Homo sapiens: one gene and its partners. The protein of the gene in region 3 purifies or fractionates together with the protein of the main gene of each other region. This does not show direct contact. Each region holds a gene or a part of one and is shown on either strand. Other genes may lie near its edges. The genes, in order: ARMC1, DUS2 and DHTKD1.

What was found.
Region 1: the proteins of DHTKD1 (region 3) and ARMC1 fractionate together in Homo sapiens (co-fractionation; one large-scale study listed by BioGRID). This does not show direct contact.
Region 2: the proteins of DHTKD1 (region 3) and DUS2 fractionate together in Homo sapiens (co-fractionation; one large-scale study listed by BioGRID). This does not show direct contact.

The regions. Positions count from the first base shown.
Region 1 is NC_000008.11:65,624,178-65,627,677, forward strand, and holds part of ARMC1 (armadillo repeat-containing protein 1), read right to left. Parts: intron 3,257-3,500; 5' UTR 3,222-3,256; coding exon 3,039-3,221; intron 1-3,038.
Region 2 is NC_000016.10:68,075,221-68,077,722, reverse strand, and holds part of DUS2 (tRNA-dihydrouridine(20) synthase [NAD(P)+]-like), read right to left. Parts: intron 2,369-2,502; coding exon 2,219-2,368; intron 1,092-2,218; coding exon 1,004-1,091; intron 1-1,003. UniProt on the Homo sapiens protein: Catalyzes the NADPH-dependent synthesis of dihydrouridine, a modified base found in the D-loop of most tRNAs. Specifically modifies U20 in cytoplasmic tRNAs. Activity depends on the presence of guanosine at position 19 in the tRNA substrate.
Region 3 is NC_000010.11:12,096,454-12,100,187, reverse strand, and holds part of DHTKD1 (2-oxoadipate dehydrogenase complex component E1), read right to left. Parts: intron 2,505-3,734; coding exon 2,192-2,504; intron 11-2,191; coding exon 1-10. UniProt on the Homo sapiens protein: 2-oxoadipate dehydrogenase (E1a) component of the 2-oxoadipate dehydrogenase complex (OADHC). Participates in the first step, rate limiting for the overall conversion of 2-oxoadipate (alpha-ketoadipate) to glutaryl-CoA and CO(2) catalyzed by the whole OADHC.

The DNA of each region.
Region 1 (3,500 bases), on a different chromosome or scaffold from region 3:
GAAATGTAAAAATGAAGGTAAATATAAAAGACCTTTTTTTGCTAGGCATGGTGGCTCACGCCTATAATCTCAGTACCTTGGGAAGCTGAGGGGGGCAGATCACCTGAACTCAGGAGTTCAAGACCAGCCTGGCCAACATGGCGAAACCCTGTCTCTACTAAAAATACAAAAATTAGCCAGGCATGCTGACATGCACCTGTAATCTCAGCTGCTAGGGAGGCTGAGGCAGAAGAATCATTTGAACCCGGGAGGCAGAGGTTGCAGTGAGCTGAGATTGCGCCACTGCACTCCAGCCTAGGTGACAGAGCAAGACTCCATCTCAAAAAAAAAAAAAGACATTTTTAAATTTTTAATCTCTTTAAAAGATAATTGACTGTTTAAGGCAAAAATATATACACTGTAGGTTTTTAAACATATGTAGAAGTAAAATGTATGACAAAAATAGCACAAAAGATGGGAGAAAGAAATGGAAATATACTCTTGTGTGATTCTTACACTACATGTTAAGGGTATGATTCATTTAAAGGTAGGCTGTAAGAAGTTAAAGATGCATATTGTAAAACCTACAGCAACCACTAAATAAATTAAAATAAAAACAAAAGTGTATACTAATAAGCTAACAGTGACGAAAAAAGGAAATCATAAAAACAACACACCCAATGGCCAGGCATGGTGGCTCACACCTGTAATTTCAGCACTTTGAGAGGCCAAGACAGGCAGATCACCTGAGGTCATGAGTTCGAGACTAGCCTGGCCAACATGGTGAAAAACCGTCTCTACTAAAAATACAAAAATTAGCCACATGTGATGGTGCGGGCCTGTAATTCTAGCTACTCAGAAGGCTGAGGCAGGAGAATCGCTTGAACCCAGGAGGCGGAGGTTGCAGTGAGCCAAGATTGTGCCATTGCTCTCCAGCCTGGGTGGCAAGAGCAAAAACTCTGTCTCAAAAACAACAACAAAAAAATCTTTTCTTCAGCCTCTTGGGAACTTTCACTCACTGATCCCTCTCCTTAGCTCTGTCCCTCCATGACTTTATACTTCCCTTCCTATTCAGCCTAGTATCTACTGTATATCATTTCAACCAATCCTGCCAAGATCCTAAACTCCCTTGCACAATCATTCTGCCCAACTTAACCTGGCCAAGTAACAACTCTAGACAAATCCAAGTACTTGGCTCTGTGAGCCTACAACAGGCCTGAATCATATCGATTCAGTATTACCAAACTAATCAGCCCTCAACACTGCTGAACAACTTTATCATTCTCCTCAGTTAGCAAATCTTTCCTATTTTCTGCAATTATGAGAGCCTTCCCCTCAAACCTCTCCCATTCTAGTAGCCCTTGCCCTCTGAACTTAGACATATTCTAGTCTATTTAAAAATAAAAAAGACTTACTTCCTTTAGCCCCAAGTCCCTATCTATAGATCAACCCCCTCTTTCTTCTCATCCTTCTTGCATTTCTTATTGAAATTGAACCCAGACTGGGGACTGTGCCATTTTTCCCATTTGTTACTACTGTTCTCTTACACCAATGTCTTTTTTGACTGCTAAACTTCATTCTGTAAAGGCAAAATAGAAATTTTTTTCCAAAAGGAAAAGTCTATATGCCTTCTGTACAAACTTGTGAAATTAGACTAAATGGGGAATCATCACGAGTCCTTAAGTAAAGGGCAATAGATAAAATTTCCAAAACATTAATTTTTTTAACAACTTTTTTTTTTTTTTTTTTGAGACGGAGTTTCACTCTTGTTGCCCAGGCTCGAGTGCAATGGCACAATCTTGGCTCACTGCAACCTCTGCCTCCTGGGTTCAAGGGATTCTCCTGCCTCAGCCTCCTGAGTAGCTGGGATTTCAGGCACCCACCACCACGCCCGGCTAATTGTTTTGTATTTTTAGTACAGACAGGGTTTCACTACGTTGGCCAAGCTGGTGTCAAACTCCTGACCTCAGGTGATCCACCCACCTCGGCCTCCCAAAGTGCTAGGATTACAGGAGTGAGCCACCACGTCTGGCCCTATTTATATGCAAAATATATAGGCATTTTTGCCAGAATAGGCAAATATAGACATACAAAAAGTAGATTAGTAGTTGCTTAGGGACAGGGAGTGTTGGGGTCTGGGAAGCAATAGATAAAAAGTTGTGGTGGGCCGGGCACAGTGGCTCACATCTGTAATCTAAGCACTTTGAGAGCTCGAGGTAGAAGAATCACTTGAGGCCAGGAGTTTGAGACCAGCCTAGTTAACATAGCTACATCCTATCTCTACTAAAAAAAAAAAAAAAAATTTATTTATAATAAATAAAAATAAAAAGTTGTGGTGATGGTGACACACAACTCTGTGAATATACTAAAATCACTTAATTGTATACTTTAAATGAGTGAATTATATGATGCTGTGTGCTTACATCTTAAAAAGCTGTTATAAAATAAAAACAAAATAAGTGCCTCTTTGAGTGTCTCTGTGTATGATATGATCCAATCCTCAAGATTGTTAAATGAAAAGGAAGTGGTAGGACATTCCATGCATGGAGTATGCAACAATTTGTATAAAAGAATAAAAACAAGGCTGGCCATGGTGACTCACAGCTGTAATTCCAACACTTTGGGAGGCCAAAGTGGAAGGATCACTTGAGCTCAGGAGTTTGAGCCTGGCCAACATGGCGAAACCCTATCTCTACAAAATATCAAAAATTTGGCTGGCATGGTGGTGTGTGCCTATCATCCCAGCTACTTGGGAGGCTGAGGTCGGGGGGATGGTTTAAGCCCAGGAGGTGGAGATTGCAGTGAACTAAGATCCTGCCACAGTGTACTCCAGGCCTAGATGACTCAAAAAAAAAAAAATAAAGAATAAAAACAATGTAGCATGTTACCACTGGTGTAAACAGACCACAGACCACACATACATATGTTTGTACCTACATAAATACAAACAACTAATTGCTCTCTTTCCGTTTTTTTACCTTGTCATCTAGCACTTTTTCCAAATTCTCACCTTAACTGCAAAAATAGAACAGAGATTGAAATTACTAAAGGCAACTTACAAGCAAAGCGGAGTGGACGACTGGAGGGTTGGGATGGTCCATAAATAAAATAAGGCCAGGCAGACATCCCTGATCCTGGACGATGGCTCTTCTGTTTAACGGATCTGCTGCTAGATCCCGTAACTGGTTAACTACCGATAGAGCGTCAGGCTCTTCACTCATGGTGGAAGTGGAAGAATTCATCTTCTATGCCATGCACATGAATAAAATCTTAAATTCTGTAGAAAAGGTTTGCAGAATTAGTTCTAGGCTGCTGAGGTATATTATAGCACTTGTGAAATAACCAGGATTACAACACCTTTAGAAAGAATCAGGTAACTAAAACTAAATCACATAAAAACTTAGAAATCGGCAACTCTACAGTTTGAGAAAAGTAAAATGAACGTAAGACGACTGAAAAAATTTGTGTGCACAATGTTTAAAGAACATATGTTGTCCTCAATATTCCAATAAATTATGTTT
Region 2 (2,502 bases), on a different chromosome or scaffold from region 3:
CCATTGGCTGAGGCTTGATCCAAAAACATGTCTGGGCCAAGTGCGGTGGCTCACGCCTGTAATCCTAGCACTTTGGGAGGCCGAGGTCGGGGGATCATCTGAGGTCAGGAGTTCGAGACCAGCCTGGTGAAGATGGTGAAACCCCATCCCTACTGAAAATACAAAAAAGTTAGCCAGGTGTGGTGGTACCCACCTGTAATCCCAGCTACTCAGGAGGCTGACACAGGAGAATCACTTGAACCTGGAGGCGGAGGTTGCAGTGAGCCAAGATCATGCCACTGCACTGCAGCCTAGGCAACAGAGCGAGACTCCGTCTCAAAAAATAAATAAATAATTAAATAATTAAATAAAATTTTTAAAAAAGGCTCATGACCTATAATCCCAGCACTTTGGGAGGCTGAGGAAGGAGGACCACTTGAGCACAGGAGTTTGAGACCAGCCTGCCTGGACAACAAAGCAAGACCCCATTTATTTATTTATTTATTTATTTTGAGACAGGCTGGAGTGCAGTGGCATGATCTCAGCTAACTGCAACCTCTGCCTCCAGGTTTAAGCAGTTCTCTGCCTCAGCCTCCCAAGTAGCTGGGATTACAGGCGCCCACCACCATGTCCAGCTAATTTTTGTATTTTTAGGAAAACGGGGTTTCACCATCTTAGCCAGGCTGGTCTTGAACTCCTGACCTCGTGTTCCACCTGCCTCGGCCTCCCAAAGTTGTGGGATTACAGGCATGAGCCACCGTGCCCGGCTGAGACCACATTTCTAAAAAATAAAAAATAAAAATTAGACTCTGTTTCAAAAAAAAAAAAAAGAGAGATGTCTGGCTGAACTGGACAACAGGCCACTGTAAGAGGGGAGGGCTATCAGCAACTGACCTGGCCACCAGCAGCTTCTCCATGCCTACAGAGGTCAAGGCCAGGCTCCAGCCTGGCAATCTAGAGTTGAGGGTGTAAGCCATGGGAGTGCTGTGACTGGCTGCAGGGCAGGCCACAGCCAGGAACTCACCGTTTCATACACAGGCTGTGCCAACTTCTCCCTCCGGCACCACTCTAGTAGGCACATCTTAGGGGTGATCTGGGCTGGGTATGCTCTCCTGGGGAAAGGAAGGGAAGCAGTTGGGGTCACCCACCATCACCGCTCCCTCCCTCAGCCAGGGCACTACTCAGCTCCTGAAAGGAGCTGCAGAAATGAGAGGAACTGAGACACCGAGCTGCTGCCTTAAGGCTTCTGTACTTGCTCCCCTAGGCTCCCATTCTTGTCCTACCAGCAGCTTGGACCTGGGTTCTCCCTAAAGGGAAGATGAATTTTGGCATGCTCAAGAAATTGTAAGGGAAGGGGGAATGAACTCCCAGTACTCTGAGGTCCAGACTGGAAAAACAATGTTCAACATCCAAGAAGGAAGCTTGCCACTCAAGACAAGATTAGTAGGGAGTGGGTGGAGGTGGGCAATGGAGGTAGCCAGACAATGGTCTCGGGGATCTAGCTCAGCGCCCATCCTGATTCCGCCTGCCAAGTGTCATGATCATCTGCTGCAGCCATGGACACTTGGAATCTGGTTTCAGAGTCAGCCTGTGACAGGGTGACACAGTGACAGGGTGGGAGGGGTCATATTCCAACTTCCCAACTGGAACTCTCCCTGGCATCTGACTGCCCAACAGCTATTCCCCACCACCCTGCTCCCCCTCTCCACACCTCTGCCAGACAAGACTGGCTCCTGTCTGGTCCTGGGGACTGGAGAAAGGCTCAGATCCCAGAGGAGGGCACCATTCAAAGCTGAGTCACAATCTGAGGCGTAAGCAGCTTGAGAGAGCACCACAGAGCTGGTGAGGGGCACTGGGTGTGGGTAGGGGCTGCAGAGCCAAATGAGGGCTAGGGTCCTGCTGTTGTTTGAGGAGCTTCATGCCAGGAGCCAGTTCCTCAGGGCCTTGGAAAAGCACAGACTTTCAGGAACAGGAGACAAGTCCCCCCTGCCCTGAGTTGTGGGAGGCGGTAAATCAGGGAAAAAGTAGAGTTCAGTTATCCTTGGGACAGCCTTTCAGGGACTATCTCCCCTGAAAGCACCTTCTATGGGATGCTGAAAATTTAGAACGAGTTTCCAAACCAACAAGACCTGTGGTCCCTACGTTTGACATTAAGCACATACAGCAGCCAGTGTGCTGGCCCAGTGGGACCCCAAGGGTGCTGGCCCTAGCCCAAGCTGAGGCCAAGCTGGAGACCTACCGGTCAAACTTGACAGCCATCTTAATGACACCAGAGGTATCTTCAGCTGGCTCCCCTGTCTGCTCTGAAGTCTTGGCTGAGAGCCTGGCCTGCTGGGCATCCAGCTCCTGTGTGGTCTCCTCATAGAAGGCACCAAGGCCAAAGGCCTCACTAGGGAGGAAGAAGCAGATCAGAGCAAACACTTTAGCGGAGCCAGCATCCAGGGTACTGCAGGACCCCAGGGCCCCACCACTGAGAAACTCCTCTACCACATACACCAAAACACCACCGGGGCCTGGCCATCA
Region 3 (3,734 bases):
CCATTCTGGACTGTAAAATTCAGAGGAAGAAAAAAAAGGAACGTCTAAGAGTCCATTTCCTTTTTCACAATGAGTACAAAAAATTTAATGCAGGCCAGGCATGGTGGCTCATGCCTGTAATCCCAGCACTTTGGGAGGCCCAGGCGGGTGGATCACTTGAGGTAAGGAGTTCAAGACCAGCCTGGACAACATGGTGAAACTCCATCTCTACTAAAAATACAAAAATTAGCTAGGCCTGGTGGCGTGTCTCTATGATACCAGCTACTCAGGAAGCTGAGGCAGGGAGTCACTGGAACCTGAGAGGCGGAGGTTGCAGTGAGCTGAGATGGCTCCACTACACTACAGCCTGGGCGACAGAGCAAGACTTGATCTCAAAAAAAAAAAAAAAAAAAAAGCAACGAAATTAAGCATCAAAAACAATGCTGAATAAAAACAGAGTACAAAAGGATACATTAGAGAAGGAGAGCAATTATATACAGTTTTTATTTATTTATTTTTTTCTGAGGCAGTCTCACTCTGTCACGCAGGCTAGAGTGCAGTGGCGTGATCTTGGCTGATTGCAACCTCAGCCTCCCTGGTTCAAGTGATTCTCCTGCCTCAGCCTCCTAAGTAGCTGGGACTATGGGTGCACACCACCACGCCCAGCTAATTTTTGTACTTTTTAGTGGAGAAGGGGTTTCGCCATGTTGGTCAGACTGGTCTTGAACCCCTGAACTCAAATAATCTGCCCGGCTTGGCCTCCCAAAGTTCTCAGATTACAGGAGTGAGCCACCACACCCGGCCTATATACAATTTTAAAACAGGCAAAACAAACACGTGCTTAGGTTAGTGGTTACCTCTGCGGAGGTGGGAGGAGATGGATCAAGGAGGGGTATGTGGGGAACTGTATTTATAACATCCTATTTCCTAAGCTGAGTGATGAGTACATATTAATAGTTTGTTGTAATAGTCTCTGTACCTATAATAAAAACTTAAAGTTAGTGGGTTGGTTTTTTTTTTTTAATTTCCTCTTTTTGGAGAAACAGGATCTTATTCTGTCACCCAGGCTGGAGTACAGTGGTGCAATCTCAGCTCATTGCAGGCTCGACCTTCTGGGCTCAAGCAATCCTCCCACCTCAGCCTCCTGAGGAGCTGAGACTACAGGCATGCGCCACCATGCCAGGCAAATTTTTTAATCTTTACTAGCGATAAGGTCCACTATGTTGCCCAGGCTGGTCTTGAACTTCTAGGCTCAAGCAATCCTTCCACCTTGGCCTTCCAAAGCACTGGTATTACAGATAGGAGCCACCGTGCCTGGCCAAGTTAGTGTTTGAAAATAATTCATGTTAGGCATGGTGGCTCACACCTGTAAACCCAGCACTTTGGGAGGCCAAAGTGGATGGATCAATTGAGGTCAGGAGTTCAAGACCAACCTGGCCAACATGGTGAAAACCCATCTCTACTAAAAATACAAAAATTAGCTGGGCATGGTGGCACATGCCTGTAATCCCAGCTACTCAGGAGGCTGAGGCAGGAGAATCGTTTGAACCTGGGAGGTGGAGGTTGCAGTGAGCCGAGATCACGCCACTGCACACCAGCCTGGGTGACAGAGTGAGATTCCATCCAAAAATAACATAAAATAAAATAATTTAGAGGGCAAAGTTCCTTCATCCAAGCTTAAGAAAGAAAAAGACATTTAACTCTTTGCTCTCCTTGTTTTAGCACTTAAAGTCCCACATTCCAGAAAACCCCTAAGTCCCAGGTCCACCAGGGTGGTTTGTCATCCTATAGTGATCCTAAGACAATACGTAAAACATGAGCATGTTTAGGGGGCTACCTTGGGGTATGTGTGTTGACTTTTGTTTCTTTTATTTAAGCCACCTGAAACAAAGTGTTTTCTACTCACTGGTTGGAAAAATAAAAACAGACATTCTTGTATCTCTGTATTTCTTATAGTGTGCATGTATTCCAGGTACATGTAATGTATGAACATGCATAAATAAATAAATACATGGAGGAAAAAGAAAAGAAGAGAAAATCTGAGGTAACTGACTATCAGTACCAAAACAACACTAGGATCAGTTTCTAGAACCTAACGACACACAATAAATATTTGTCAAATGAATCAGACAACTGAAAACACCAGACCAACGTCAGCTCCTTTGCTGAGCAGGAAGGAGAAGCAATAACCAGCCATTTGGAGGCTGCCCACCTGAACATGTGTCTTCAGCAGGTGACTGTGCATCTGCAGCTCTCTTGGCACCTCTACAGACTTCATGCCAACAAACCGCAGGAGGTCGAGGGGCACACCTGTACTCCAGGTGGTGATTTGCGCTTCTGGCTGAGCCAGGCCCTGCCAGTGGGCCTGCAGGTTCAGGGCAGGGGGCCTGTAGTGGGCCATGTTATTTAAGTGATCATTCAACTTGGCATAGTAGGAGGATTTTATTTCAGACACCTCCTCCTGCGTCATGAGTCCGCCAGCAATGAGGTGCTCTGCATATGTGTCTGGAATGCTCTTTCGAGCTCTGCCCAAGAAAGAGAAGAAACAAAAATCAGTCTGACCTGTAACAATCTAATAGAGACAAGGAGAGTCACTGTCAAGGGCGGTGGAGTGTCAGCACTCTAAAAAGGCATTCGACAGGTGCAGTGGCTCACACCTACAATCTTAGCATTTTGGGAGGCCAAAGTGGGTGGATCACCTGAGGTCAGGAGTTCGGGACCAGCCTGGCCAACGTGGTGAAACCCTGTCTCTACTAAAAATACAAAAAATTAGCTTGGCATGGTGGCGGGCGCCTGTAATCCCAGCTACTCAGGAGGCTGAGGCAGGAGAATTGCTTGAACCTAAGTGGTAGAGGTTGCAGTGAGCCGAGATGGCACCACTGCACTCCAGCCTAGGCAACAAAAGTGAAACTCCGTCTCAAAAACCAAATAAATAAAATTAAAAATAAATAAAAATAAAATAAAAAGGCATTCAGGAAAAATGTTTTGGAACTTGACAGAAGTGATGGTTGCACCACTTTGTGAAGGTAAATAAATGCCACTGAGTTGTTCGCATTAAGACAGCCAATTTTATATTATGTCACGTTCATCTCAATAAGTTTATAAAACAGAAACAAAATAAATAAACAATGTTAAATATAATAAATTAATTTAATAAATGAAGGCACTCATAGTAACAACCTCTTTTCCAGGCAACTGAGAGAAAACAAATTTATAAGTTTTTGTCTGCATCCAAATAGAAATAATTAACAGAGTTTTTCTATGATTTGGTAAATTCTGACAATTATTTCCAAGACTGACCCACACTGTCTATCCAATCAGCACCCCCCTTTATCTAAAAAGGTATGGAACCCAAAGTTGCTCCAGTCTGAAAGTTGCAATCTTTCAGGTTGCATCTATCATCCTTTAACTACAATCATCAACACCTGGGTGTTACAATAAATGTCACTCTACATTCATGTCATACTTTCAACTATAAAGTCTATTCACATATATTATCATATTTAATCCTGATAAAAGAGAGAAGAAAGCAGGATAGATTTTAAAGCTAACGCCCTGGGGCCAGGTGAGGAGGCTCATGCCTGCAATCCCAGAACTTTGGGAGGCCGAGACGGGCAGATGGCGAGACCAGCTTGGGTAACGCTGTGAGACCCCATCTAGTCAGGCATAGTGGCAAGCGCCTGTAGTCCCAGGTTCTCAGGAGGTGGAGGCGGGAGGATCGCTTGAGCCCAGGAAGTCGAGGCTACAGTGAGCCG